Linked DNA regions of Homo sapiens. The gene in region 3 interacts genetically with the main gene of each other region. Each region holds a gene or a part of one and is shown on either strand. Other genes may lie near its edges.

Evidence for each region. Genes that interact genetically often act in the same process or in processes that back each other up.
Region 1: changes in DONSON (region 3) and CARS2 together harm fitness more than expected from each alone (negative genetic interaction), as found in Homo sapiens cells (one large-scale study listed by BioGRID).
Region 2: changes in DONSON (region 3) and PITRM1 together harm fitness less than expected from each alone (positive genetic interaction), as found in Homo sapiens cells (one large-scale study listed by BioGRID).
Region 4: changes in DONSON (region 3) and RPL24 together harm fitness more than expected from each alone (negative genetic interaction), as found in Homo sapiens cells (one large-scale study listed by BioGRID).

Annotation. Positions count from the first base shown.
Region 1 is NC_000013.11:110,661,117-110,664,616, reverse strand, and holds part of CARS2 (probable cysteine--tRNA ligase, mitochondrial), read left to right. Parts: intron 1-570; coding exon of another isoform or gene 571-707; exon of another isoform or gene 708-1,098; coding exon 1,099-1,166; intron 1,167-3,500. UniProt on the Homo sapiens protein: Mitochondrial cysteine-specific aminoacyl-tRNA synthetase that catalyzes the ATP-dependent ligation of cysteine to tRNA(Cys). In addition to its role as an aminoacyl-tRNA synthetase, has also cysteine persulfide synthase activity.
Region 2 is NC_000010.11:3,141,783-3,145,282, reverse strand, and holds part of PITRM1 (presequence protease, mitochondrial isoform 2 precursor), read left to right. Parts: exon of another isoform or gene 1-312; intron 313-916; coding exon 917-991; intron 992-1,296; exon of another isoform or gene 1,297-1,427; intron 1,428-1,507; exon of another isoform or gene 1,508-1,781; coding exon 1,782-1,894; intron 1,895-2,194; exon of another isoform or gene 2,195-2,311; intron 2,312-3,500. UniProt on the Homo sapiens protein: Metalloendopeptidase of the mitochondrial matrix that functions in peptide cleavage and degradation rather than in protein processing. Has an ATP-independent activity. Specifically cleaves peptides in the range of 5 to 65 residues.
Region 3 is NC_000021.9:33,578,685-33,582,184, reverse strand, and holds part of DONSON (protein downstream neighbor of Son), read left to right. Parts: coding exon 1-20; intron 21-129; coding exon 130-234; intron 235-684; coding exon 685-883; intron 884-2,622; coding exon 2,623-2,835; intron 2,836-3,500. UniProt on the Homo sapiens protein: Replisome component that maintains genome stability by protecting stalled or damaged replication forks.
Region 4 is NC_000003.12:101,680,591-101,683,718, forward strand, and holds the end of RPL24 (large ribosomal subunit protein eL24), read right to left. Parts: intron 2,318-3,128; coding exon 2,181-2,317; intron 1,903-2,180; coding exon 1,839-1,902; intron 626-1,838; coding exon 545-625; 3' UTR 501-544; downstream 1-500. UniProt on the Homo sapiens protein: Component of the large ribosomal subunit. The ribosome is a large ribonucleoprotein complex responsible for the synthesis of proteins in the cell.

The sequences.
Region 1 (3,500 bases), on a different chromosome or scaffold from region 3:
TAATCACATTATATAGAATTACATGTTCAAAGTTATATATGTTTTTTGGAAATCACATTCTAATTGGTTGGTTGGTTGGTGTATTTATTTATTTATTTTTGAGGCAGAGTCTCGCTCTGTGGCCCAGGCTGGAGTGCAGTGACATGAACATAGCTCACTCTAGGCCCAACCTCCTGGGCTCAAGCGATCCTCCCACCTCAGTCTCCTGAGTTGTTGGGATGTTGGGACTGCAGGTGTGCCCCACCACGCCCAGCTAATTTTTAATTTTTTTTGTAGAGACCGGGTGTTGCCATGTTGCCCAGACTGGTCTCCAAACTCCTGGGCTCAAGCGGTCCTTCCACCTTAGCCTCCCAAAGGGCTGGTATTACGGGTGTGAGCCACTGCGTCCGGCCTGGAGGACTCCTGTTTGAAGTTGTGTCAGAAAAAGAGGAAGAGTCTTCTGTTAGAAACAGAAAGCCCTTCTCTTGGAGATAAGCCTTGTAAAAAGCTACAGGCCAGGGAGAATTTCAGGGTCAGATTCAGGAGTTCCTTAAATGAGTTTGGTTTTCCTCCTGTCTTTCACATACATAGGGGATGAAATAATACCCAGGTCATCAAAGTCTGTGAAACCAACTGCAACAGGACCTCTGATTCTTCCCACTCAGAGACCCACAAGTGCCACTCTGTTTTTGGACAACGGTCAACAAGCTTCACCGCCAAGTGCCTGATTTGTCAAATGAGAGCTTTGTCGTTTCTTCAGATGCTGACCAGTATCTGAATTCAGTATCTCTGAATTACAGGAGAGGAGAAAATAGATGAAATACTGCTGTCAGTACCACGGTTGCTGGCTCTTGTTTAGCTTCTGAGTCAGCTGGGGCACCCCTGCCATCTGCTCTCAGTGTGGGGCTGGGTGTCCCTGCACCGTGGAACAAGGGCAGGTCCTGTCTTCCCGGAAGGCCCAGCACGGGTGAAGATTTGGGGGCAGATTTATACCAACATACACTGGTCTATACATTGGATATGTGCAGGTTCCCATTCGTTTCCTGGGGAGCCATGTGTCCCTGAGGCCAGAGAGTCTCCTCACCCAGCTCAGACTGAATGCTTTTGTTTTTGTTTCAGGGCATTTGCACGCCAAAGGCAAAGAAGAAAAAATGTCCAAATCATTAAAGAACTACATTACTATTAAGGTAACGTGCTTTTTGTATTGTATCTCTGAGGTGCCGATAGCTTGTGGAACCCATCTTAAAGGCTTCTGTGTCATTTGAGAACCACGGAATCCCATTCCCAGTGCCCTCTGGCCCCTTTCTTATGACGAGACCTGCCTCACCTCCCTCCCACTTTAAGTGGCTCTCCGCCTAATCGCGCCCTCAGCTGTGCGCCTCCCGCAGGTTTCCGCAGTCCCTTTCTTGGTGGAGCTTCCCTTTCTCTTTCCGTGTTTCAAGGCCGGCGCCCTCTTCCTTGCCTTTTCCTTTTATAATTGTTGTCTCCCTCTTGGTGCATCTGCTGACTTCCTTCCCGCCCTCACCCACCACCTCTTACTGGTGTGGCTTTGGGATTTGTTTAGGTTTTGCTGTTTGCCCTTAATAGGCTCAGAGCTGGCTGGATCCTTAACCAACCTGAAAAATGGCATCATGCTATGCTGCTGACACATGGAATGTGAATTTTCGTGTGAATGGAAAACAGGCACACCCACGGAGGGCTCTGGCTGACATAGTTTGAACTCCTCCTTTGTCTTCTGGCCTGTCTTTAAAGCCAGATTTAATTTAATTGCAAAATAAATGGAGAAGAATAGTATCCAGATCTCACCGCCTAAATAGCAAACCAGTGAAAGCTGTACCCATCAGATTTAGGATACACCAACAGGGACTGCTCCTCACAAAATAATTTGTATATAGTTTCCTTAAGTAGAATTTTTCCGTTTTATCCTAGGCAAAATTTCAAACCGATAGAAAAGTTGAAAGAAACATCACTATGGCTCCACCCAGATTCAGTAGTTGTGATGATTTTGCTGTATTTGCTGTGTAGGATCTTTTTCGCCTACCCAGCTTAGATTCTCCCACCGGGGAGCCTCAATTAAATTGGTAAATTAGACTCTGGCCAAAGACAGATTAGCAAGAGAAAAACAAAGAGAAATGTGTTAGAGCGTGCACGGCACACGTGGAGGTGGAGCACAGGGTTGCATGACACAGAGGAAGGTTGGAGCCCGGGGCCACGGGGTTGCATGACGCAGAGGGGGTCCAAACCCAGCCACGGGGTTGCATGGTATGCAGTGGGGTCGGAGCCTGGCCATGGGGTTGCATGACGCAGAAGGGGGTCCGAAGCCGGCCATGGGGTTGCATGACGCAGAGGGGGGTCGGAGCCCGGCCACGGGGTTGCATGACGCAGAGAGAGGTCCGAACCCGGCCGTGGGGTTGCATGACGCAGAGGGGGTCCGAACCCGACCATGGGGTTGCATGGTGCAGAGTGGGTCGGAGCCCGGCCACTGCAGGGACCTTGCTTTATTGAGCTTCACTTGACCGCACTTCGCAGATGCTGTGTCTTTACAGATTGAAGGTTTGTGGCAGCCCTGCACCAAGCAAATCTGTTGGCACAATTTTGCCAACAGCATGTTCTCACTTCCTTTCTGTGTGTCATGTTTGGGTAATTCTTGCAATATTTCAAAGTTTCTCATTATTAAATCTGTTATGGTGATCTGTGGTCAGTGATCTCTGATGTTACTGTTGTAATTGTTTTCGGGCTCCATGAACCACATCCATGGAAGACAGAACTTAGTATGTGTTGTGCATGTTCTGACTGCTCCACCAACTGTCCATTCCTTTAAATCTGCCCCTCCTTGGACTCCCCTATTCCCTGAGACACAACATTATTGAAATTAGGCCAGTTACTAGCCCTACAGTGGCCTCTAAGTGTTCAAGTGAAAGGAAGAGTCACACATCTCTCACTTTCCATCAAAAGCTAGAAATGCTTAAGCTTAATGAGGAGGGTATGTCAAAAGCTGAGACAGGCTGAAAGCTAAGCCTCTTGCACCAAATATTTAGCTAAGTTGTGAATGCAAAGGAAAAGTTCTTGAAGGAAATCAAAAGTGCTATTCCAGCGAACACACGAATGATTAGCAAGCAAAACAACCTTATTGCTGATAATGGAGAAAGTTTGAGTGGTCTGGATAGAGAAGATCAAACCAGCCACAACATTCCTGTAAGCCACAGCCTAATCTGGAACAAGGCCCTAACTTTCTTCAGTTCTATGAAGGCTGAGAGAGATGAGAAAGCTGCAAAGAAAAGTTGGAAGCTAGCAGGGGTTGGTTTGTGAGGTTGAAGGAAAGAAGACCTAGCTAAAATAAGTGATGAAGGTGGCCACACTAAACAGCAGATCTTTCGAATGTAGATGAAATTGCCTTCTATTGGAAGAAGATGCTGTCTAGGACTTTTGTAGCTAGAAAGAAGTCAATGGCTGGCTTCAGAGCTTCAAAGGACAGGCTGACTATTGTTAGGGGCTAATGTAGCTGGTGACTTTAAGTTGAA
Region 2 (3,500 bases), on a different chromosome or scaffold from region 3:
GAAGGCTGTTCACTGCTGTTTCTTTGACTCATGAATCCATGGATTTGACATGGAACAGTGATGTCGGTGATAACTAACTTAGTAAATTTGATTAACTTAGAGAGTTGTAGTCTAGTTCATGGATGTCAGTAGAGAAGCCGTGCTGCTCCGTGGAGGAGGTTGACGCTCATGTCTTCTCCGTTGGTGTCTGCGTATCCCTGGTTCAATTCTGGATGTGGTCTCTCTGTTGGCCCCTGGGAGTGGAGCCTTTGGGAGGTGGCCTCCTGCTGCTCCAGGCCCCTCTGCCTGCAACCCTTTCACCTTAAATGTCCTCTTGATTTGACAGATTAATGACAAGAAAGTGCAGAAAGAAAGGTTAAAATATTTTCTTTGTACCATATAACAAGGCTACCTTTTCCTTGACTGTCTGAAAATTTATTTTAATATTTTCTTAATTTCTTTTACTCACTTTATTTCTTTTTTTAGTTTTTGTTATTTTGAGACAGGGTCTGTCTCTGGCACTCGGGCTGGAGTGCAGTGGTGCCATTACAACTAGCTGTAGCCGTGACCTCCTGGGCTCAAGTGATCCTCCAATCTCAGCCTCCCAAGTAGCTGGGGCTACAGGTGTGCACCACCATGCCCAGCTAATTTTTAAAAATTTTTTGTTGAGATGGGAGCTCACTACATTGCCCAGGCTGGTCTCAGACTCCTGGACCCAAGCAATCCTCCCACCTCAGCCTCCAAAGTGCTGGCATTATAGGCATGAGCCACTCTGCCCAGCCTATTTTTATTTTTTTTAAGCGTTTATTATTTAAAACACTTACACCTGCCCTAACACTTGTTATTAGCTGTGTGAATTTTATAAACTCTGTTACTTCTTATATATTTCAAGTGAGTTCTGGATTTTTCTCTTTTCTCTTGGAAACTTGATTTTCAGAAACCTGTGCCCAGCAGCTCTGGTGGAGATGCCCACGTTCCCCATGGCTCCCAGGTCATTAGGAAGCTGGTCATGGTAAGAACCACAGCCCATCCGGGTTGCCAGCGGGTGGGTGCTTCCCTGCATGGCTGTGTCTGCCACTGATGTTCGAATGTTCCTCCGTCCGCCTGTCTGTGGGGCTGGCGTGTCCCTAGAGTTGCGAGTTCAGTGCATCCTTTGTCACTGCCACCCTGAGCCTTTTCTCTCTCAGACAGTACTGAGTGAAGGCCCTGGTGGGGGTGTGTCCTCCTGTGCCGAGGAGGGCCCTGGTATGGGGTGCGTCTTCCCTGTGCCCAGGAAGAGGGCTACTGCTCTGGGTGGTCTCCTCCCGGGCAACTCACCCTTCTTTGAACGTAGCTCCCGAGCTGAGTCGATGCCAGTGGAGCGGTCTGACAGATCCTTTCCGCGACTCAGCCTGGTGCTGATGCTGTTTGGTTTGGTTCCTTGTGGAGTAGAGTGATTTAACACATTCCTATGATATAATATGATATGAAATATAAATATGTAACTGTGATATAAACGGCGTAGAATGAAATGTTTTTAATTGAACAGTATACGTTAAGGCATCACGTCAAGATTGGAGGACTTCATGTCAGTTTTACAGTGAGAAATTGTGTGGAGTGACGGAACTGCAGTGCCTTGCTCTCGCGCCCCAGCACCTGGCTGCAGAGTGTCACGGAGATGGGACCCCTGAGATGGCTCCAGTCCCAGTGCCGTGGGCAGTGCGTGGGAGCACAGCCGCCTCTGACCCCTGAGTGGGTCCAGTCCCAGTGCCGTGGGCGGTGCATGGCAGCACAGCCGCCTCTGACCATACCGTGTCCCTCAGGAACCCACCTTCAAGCCCTGGCAGATGAAGACTCACTTCCTGATGCCCTTCCCGGTGAATTACGTGGGTGAATGCATCCGAACTGTCCCCTACACGGACCCAGATCATGCCAGGTAGGAGGGTGTAGGTCGGGACCTCTCAGGCCTGAGCCTTACGGAAGAGCTTGTCAAGGCTGTTCGAGTTCACAGGGCGTGTTTTAGCACAGGAAAAGTCTGTGCTGACTCTGAGTGTTGGACCTGGGGCTGTGTGAGTCTACGAGTGCTCCTCTTTAACCAGCAGTCTTTGTGAACAGAGACCCAGTTTTAGAGCCAGTCATTTTTGTAAACAATTTCTATTATTGAGGAGTCCTATGAACAATACAGATACCTATGACCTTAAACACAGACTGCTTTCAACATGCCCCATGTACTCACCTCATCTCTAGGTAAAAATCGAATGAATTTAGGCTGAGATTTCTGATAAACATGGTAGGTTAAGCCTTCATGAGGACAGATGCGTGAATGACAGCAAAGGCAGATCAAGACACGAAGCTACAAGGGAAAGAGTGGGAGGTGACCCGGAGAGCCATGGGGGCTGCAGGAGAACCTCGTGAGCCAGACTCTGGGTGGGTGGGGGGTGCCTGACCTGGGGCCACAGAGGGACAGGGCAGTGGGGAGAAACCAGGTGGTCCTGCAGAGCCCTGCAGATGGCAGGGCTGGAGGCCGCCTCACAGTCCCTCTAAGGAGTTTGTCTCCCCTGTCTCCCCACCAAGTCAGAAGCTCAGGGAAGGAGGCCCTGGGTTGAGCAGCCGAAGCCACAGCCAAGAGTCAGGGTCAGGCCTGTTCCCAAAGTGGCGTGGGGCGAGGGAGTTTGCAGCCTACAGACTGGCCCTCCAGCCCCTTCTTCCGAACTCTGGCTGCCCCTTGGCTGTGTTCATCCCATCTGGGGAAACTGGCCAGACCAGGACAGACTCACAGACGTGCACCTTTGGGGACCCGTCAGTTGGGTGTGTATGACACAGATATGTGCAAACATGTTATATCCCGGAAATTCACTTCCTGTGTCCTTGTCCCAGGCAGCTACCCCCATGAGGGACTAAACCAAGGAGTGAGCCTGGTAGAGAGGGGGAAGGCAGGCTTAGGCCTGGGCAGCCTGTCCTGATTGGAGAAGGAGCCGGGCCTCCGAGGTGCACGTGTGTCACAGAGGGTCACAGATGGGGAGGTGTGTAGGAGGCAGGCGGGAAGAAACGTGGGGCTGCAGTGGGGGCCCAGAAAGAGCTGGCTGTAGAAGTATGTGGTCAGCTGTTTTGTTCATTTATTTCCATATTTGTAGAAGATGAACAGATCTGTCTGCTATGCCGGCAGAAGAGTGGTGTCTGTTTCCACTATCCAACAGGAAAATGTAGACAGAAAACACTAAAAATGTGGAGGTTCCCCCTGGGCAGTGGGATTCCAGATCTTTTTTTCCTTGTGTTTTGTATTTTATAATCTTTCAAAAGTGAGCATGTTTTTAATATACAAGTAATAGAAATTTCTCAGGAAGGATAATGTGTGGACGGATGGAACGCCATCCCTGCCGGTGCTGGTGGAGACTCCGTCCCCCAGGGTCTGACTCCAGCCTCGCTAGTCCCGGCTGACGGCGCCCCAGCCACCCGAGTGGCGCTGGGTTTCTCCTGGAGGACCCACACGAGATGGTCGTGACTTCTCCCACCACAGCCCCTGGGAACACGCCCACTCCTTC
Region 3 (3,500 bases):
ACAAGCTTGGGATATGGGGAGTATGTGATTAAAATAACTTTATATCATCCACTGACTTATGGACTCATGAAATAGATTTGCACAGGAACAGCTTGTGAAATAGGGACTCTAACTGTAGCAATTTCCTAGGGAGCAAGCCATCAGTGATGAGGATGAAGAGGAAAGTTTTTCCTGGCTGGAAGAGATGGGTGTGCAAGATAAAATTAAAAAGCCAGACATACTTTCTATCAAGCTGTATCCTTTCAGTTGTTGTTAACTAGAATTAATTTTCATTGAATGACGTTAGTGAGAAGTTTAACATTGGCAGTTTTATATGATTATAATCTTAAATTATCTTCAGGTCATATTAAAACTAATTCTCCATTGTAATACTAAATAAGCCCCTAAGTATCAACAAATGGTGAACTATTAAACCTTTTTTAATCAAAACGTTCAATTATGATTGTGGGAGAATAGGTGTGTTTTGACTAGAGAAGAAATTAGGTTTAGGTGTCAGTTTGTAGCAAATTCAGATTGTTAACATTTTGATTGAAACATATGCCTTATGATTCGGTAAAGAGAGGTAGCAAGAGGATTTCCATTTCATTATGGAGAAAAGGAGTCTCAGGTGATTCAGAATCAAGATAACTGCTTTCCACATTAGGTGAGATTTGCTTTTGCAATTTCCTTGATTGTCATCTTCAGGCGTAAAGAGAAACATGAAGTACAAATGGATCACAGACCTGAATCTGTTGTGTTGGTAAAAGGAATCAACACCTTTACATTGCTCAATTTTTTGATTAACTCTAAGAGTTTAGTTGCTACCTCAGGTCCACAGGCAGGACTTCCTCCAACCCTCTTGTCCCCTGTTGCTTTCCGAGGTGCCACAATGCAAATGCTTAAGGTAATAAAAGTCTGCATAACCTAGCTTTTAAGAAGTACTTTACTTTGATAGGATAAATTCTTGATTTAAAAAAAAACCTCCTAGCATTTTTACTTGGTACATATTTTCATTTTGCTTTCCTCCCATTAAAAAAAGAAACAAAAATTATATAAGACAGTTATATCAAAGAAATTATGTGGAAATATATAAATTATATGAAATCCTTTTTATTTTCTTTTCGAGATGGAGTCTTGCGCTGCTATCCAGGCTGAATGGAGTGCAGTGGCGTGATCTCAACTCACTGCAACCCCTGCCTCCCGGGTTCAAGTGATTCTCGCGCCATGCCTCAGCCTCTTGAGTAGCTGGGATTACAAGCACACACCACCAAGCCTAGCTATTTTTTTTGTTTTTTTTTTTCTTGTTTGTTTTTGTTTGTTTGTTTTAAGAGGGAGTCCCACTCTGTCACCGGCTGCAGTGCAGTGGTGCGATCTCGGCTCACTGCAGCCTCCAACTCTGGGGTTCAAGCGATTCTTCTGCCTCAGCCTCTCGAGTAGCTGGGGTTACAGGTGGGCACCACCACGCCCAGCTAATTTTTGTATTTTTAGTATAGACGGAGTTTCACCATATTGGCCAGGCTGGTCTTGAACTCCTGGCCTCTTTTTAAATTATACGAACATTTATTTTCTTTTTTTGGTTGGGGAGACAGGGTCTTGCTGTAGTGCAGTGGCACAGCTCACTGCAGCCTCAACCATGTGGGCTCAAGTGAAATTCCTGCCTCAGCCTCTCGAGTATCGGACCACAGGACTGCCATGCCCTGCTTTTTTTTTTTTTTTTTTTTTTTTTTTTTTTTTTTTTTTTTGAGGTGGAATCTCACTCTCACCCAGGCGTGTGCCACCACGCCTGGCTAATTTTTTTTTTTTTTTGTATTTTTTGTAGAGACGGGTTTTCACCATGTTGGTCAGGGTGGTCTCGAACTCCTGACCTCATGATCTGCCCTCGGCCTCCCAAAGTGCTGGGATTACAGGCATGAGCCACTGCACCTGGCCGCCCTGCATTCATTCATTCATTCATTCATTCATTCATCTATCTATTTAGAGACGGAGTCTTGCTCTGTCACCCAGGCTGGAGAGCAGTGGCTCAATTTTGGCTCACTGCAAACTCTGCCTAACGGGCTCAAGCGATTCTTCAACCTCTGCCTCTGGGGCTCAGGTGATTCTTCTGCCTTAGCTTCCCAAGTAGCTGGGACTATAGGCTCACACCACCATGCCTGGCTAATTTTTTTGTATTTTTAATAGAGACGAGGTTTCACCATGTTGGCCAGGCTGGTCTTGAACTCCTGACCTCAAGTGATCTGCCCACCTTGGCCTCCCAAAGTGCTGGGATTATAATCATAATAAATTATATATGTAAATACAAAATACATGCTAAATCTTAGCAATAAAATTGAATGGATTTTAAATTTTTGTTTTTCCAATAGTCTGCATTGACAGTGTATTACTAAATCAGATAAAATACTATATGAAAAAATGGTATTCTCTGGAATATACTTCACCTGAAAATCTCTTAATATGGAAAGGTTGCTGAAAATTTACTAAGTATTTGTACTCACATAACATTGTTTAGATGTCTTGGGAAATAGTTTTATTCCATAATTGTTAAAAGAGAGGAAACCCCAAATGGAAATATATTGAACATATTTTTGGCTAGGCAAAAGGTTGAGAGATGATCTTAATTTTCCTTTTCTTTACATTTTCATGAAGGCACGGAGTGTGAATGTGAAGACACAAGCTCTTTCTGGATACAGAGACCAATTTAGTTTGGAGATTACAGGTCCTATCATGCCTCATTCTCTGCATTCACTGACCATGCTGCTCAAATCTTCACAGAGTGGATCTTTCTCTGCAGTACTGTATCCACACGAGCCAACTGCTGTATTTAACATCTGCCTGCAAATGGACAAAGTACTTGATATGGTAAGTAGACACCTATGAGCAGACTGTTTTAGTTGTAGTTTCCTCAAACTAGCTGGAGGGAAATTGAGTCATTTATGCTGAGTCACTATTGTGTTTCAAGTAATTAAACTGTTACTTAATTATGAATTACTAGAGGAAGGAATAATGTCTGTAAGTTGTTTATGTGAGGTAGCTTTCATGAATTCAGTCCAAGTACAATTTTTTTTTTTTTTTGAGATGGAGTCTTGCTGTTGCCCGGGCTGGAGTGCAGCGGCGCGAGTCTCGGCTCACTGCAGCCTTAGCCTCCTGGGTTCAAACAGTTCTCCTGCCTCAGCCTCCCAAGTAGCTGAGATTACAGGCATGTGCCACCACATCTGGCTATTTTTTGTATCTTTATTAGAGACGGGGGTTTCACCATGTTGGCCAGGCTGGTCTTGAACTCCTGACTTCAGGTGATCTGCCCACCTTGGCCTCCCAAAATGTTGGGATTACAGGCTTGAGCCACGGCACCCGGCCTCAGTCCAAATAGTTTTAACAGTGACTGAAGAACTTCCCATTCCAAAAAGGGGCAGCTTTTTCATTTCCTCTTGCATCCAAAACTCAATAGTACCTGATTCCTTTATAGTTTAAGGAAACAATTCACTGTGGGTATTTAACCATATTTGCCTTTAATTTTGAACATACTT
Region 4 (3,128 bases), on a different chromosome or scaffold from region 3:
CTGGCTCAAGCGATCCTTCCACCTTCCACACTCCCAGCTTCCCAGCTGGGACTATATACACTCTCCACCATGCCTGGCTCACTTTTGAATGTTTTTGTAGAGATGGGGTTTCGCCATGTCACTCAGGCTGGTCTTGAACTCCTGAGCTCAAGTGATCACCTGGCTTTGGTCTTACAAATGCTGGGATTACAGGCGTGAGCCACTGCACCAGCAACATCCTAATACTTACAGCAATGTAACCAAAAAGTTAAGGCAATTAAGTTTTTCTAATGTGCCCTATACACCCCAGCCAAGCCAAGATAGCATCTGACCTTACCCATCTTACATTATTTTGCTTAACCTCTCTCCAACAAAGAAGTTAAAACTTTATAGGATGCATTATTCCTGAGCAATAGACTTTTTAATAAAATACCTACGTCTTACATTCTTTGTTAGGTCACCTATGACCGTGTAAAGTCCAACATGCCTGTTACAAGAAAAAAAAAAAATCCAGCACAACCTAGAGTTATAATCCAATCTTTATTTAAAAATCTAATCTGCCAGTTTAGCGTTTTCCACCAACTCGGGGAGCTGAAACTTTCACAGGCTTCACAATCTTTTGCTTAGGTGCTGCCTTTGTAGGTGCCTGTAAAAAGATAACACAATATTACTCCACAAAACTTTTGTTACCCTATTATTACCCATCTCTCACATCCAGATTGTTTATGTAGCTTAGATCACTTTCTTAGTAATTTAACTGCATTCCTAATGCCAATCTTTTAATGTGACTACCCTTAAATATTTAAAGCCCATCTTTACAATGAAAGACAAAGACTAAGATACCCTCACAGACTGGATGAAATGAGACACAACCAAGTGCAGTGTAGGATCCTGAAATGCATCCTAACAGAAACTCACAGAAAAGATCTCAGTAACAGTACAGTGTTTACTCAGCTTTTCTCAATGTTATCAATGTAGATAACCATAGTAACTTTCAAAACCAGGCATGGTGCAGGGGCTCATCCCAACACTTCGGGGTGCTAAAGCAGGTGGATCGCTTGAGCTCAGGAGTTTGAGGCCAGCCTGGGCAACATGGCGAAACCATCTCAACTAAAATACCTATTAGCTGGGTTTGGTAGTGCTTGCCTGTAGTCCCAGCTACTTAGGGGCCTGAGTCAGGAGGATCACTTGAGCCCAGGAGGTTGAGGCTGCAGCAAGCCGTGATTGTGCCACTGCACTCCAGCTGGGCTACAGAGTGAGGCCCTGTGTTGAAGGGGGAAAAAAACAAACAAACAAACAAACAAAAAGGCCAACCTTTATTTTTCCCAGTTCCTAACAGTAACACATGCTTTGGCTTATGGAGAGGACCACCTCTCTGGAGACCTGAACCATTGGCCAAGTAATTGGTTACAAACATCATTTCCAATTGAGCCTTGCATTCAATACCTTAAAACTGTGAAACTTTCATTTATCACAATTTAGACTGAAAATAAATTTTCCAGCCGGGCTCAGTGGCTCACACTTGTAACCCCAGCACTTTGGGAGGCTGAGGTGGGCAGATCACCTGAGGTCAAGAGTTCAAGACCAGCCTGTCCGACATGGTGAAACCCTGTCTCTACTTAAACAAACAAACAAACAAACAAAAAATCAGCCGGGCGTGATGGCGCGCACCTGTACTCCCAGCTACTCGGGAGGCTGAGGCAGGAGTATCACTTGAACCCGGGAGGCAGAGGTTGCAGTGAGCTGAGATCAGATCACGCCACTGCACCCCATCCTGGGCAACAGAGCAAGACTCCGTCTCAAAAAAAGAAAATTTTCCTGTTGTATTGTTCAAGAAAGTAAAGAAACCCCATAATTACCTTAGCAGCAGCCATTGCAGTCTTTTTAGATGCTTGCTTAGCCTTTTTTGCTTCCTTAGCAGCCCTGTGGGGTAAAAGTAACTTAAGGCAAAAGCACTTTACTCCTTAGTGGTACAACTTATTATTAGAGTTAGACTGTACTGGACAAGTACAATGACCATATTCCTTCCTTCCCTACCTCCATTTATTTGTAGGCTAAATCCAAAGAATTTGTCAATAATTTTCATTAACCACCAAATCAGCTTAACATATATTAATCTATATGGTAACTTTAATTACTGAAGACCCAAACCTAAAATCCATCCGAATAGGTAAAATGCTCATAATGAAAGCATTCCTCACCTGATAGCTTGTTCTCGTTGAGCCTTTCTAACTTCAGGTTTCTGATTCCTCTTGGCCATTATATCAGCAAGAGATGCACCAGTAATGGCCCTCTGGAATTTGACTGCTCGGCGGGTTCTTTTCTTTTGAATTTCTTCCTGCAAAACAAAGATGAGGGGCACACTTAGGAACCTTCCTTCAAGAATTTAGAGGGAGGAAAAATTAAGTCTTTTAAGACAGGGCAAATGAAGTATTTTAAGATTCATATTCAACAAAAAATAATTCATATATTTGAAATAAAACATGTTTTCCCTTATGGATTAAGCCCTCTATTACAAATCCTAGCCATTTTTTTACTACCTTAAAAAGACACACAAAAAATTGAACTCTAAGGAAAATGGTTATTCCATGAACTGCATAGTAGTATAAATGAAGACTGTTTATACTTTTAATAATTTACTTATTGAAAAAAATTATCATATTCAGCTTTTTTAACTCAAAGGACTGTCACTAGGAGAAATAAATTAAGACAATTATTTGACAGGAGAGCCACCAAATGTTAGGTAGGATTTGTCTGAGAAGGTATTGTGGAATCTAACACTTTCTGTAGATTACTGGAAATCTATACTACAGTGTTTATGAGAAAAAGATCTTGCAGTGCACCTTTAAGTCAAGAACAAAGTATATTCGAATAGTTGTTTATTAAGGCACTGACATGCAAAATTACCTTAAAAACTTTTAACAAAAATAAGGCACATTGGTGGTTTACAGACATGCTAATTTTAAACTTTTTAGAAAGATGCAATCTTATTGTTTCTACAGTAAAATGGCAGTTTTTCTACAGTAAATGGCAGTATTTACCTGTTTAATATTCTTGTCTCAAACGAACACTTAAACATTTTTTTTATTGTGGTAAAAATGTAAAGTTGACAATTTTAACCTTTTGGTTTTTCTTTTCTTTTTTTTTTT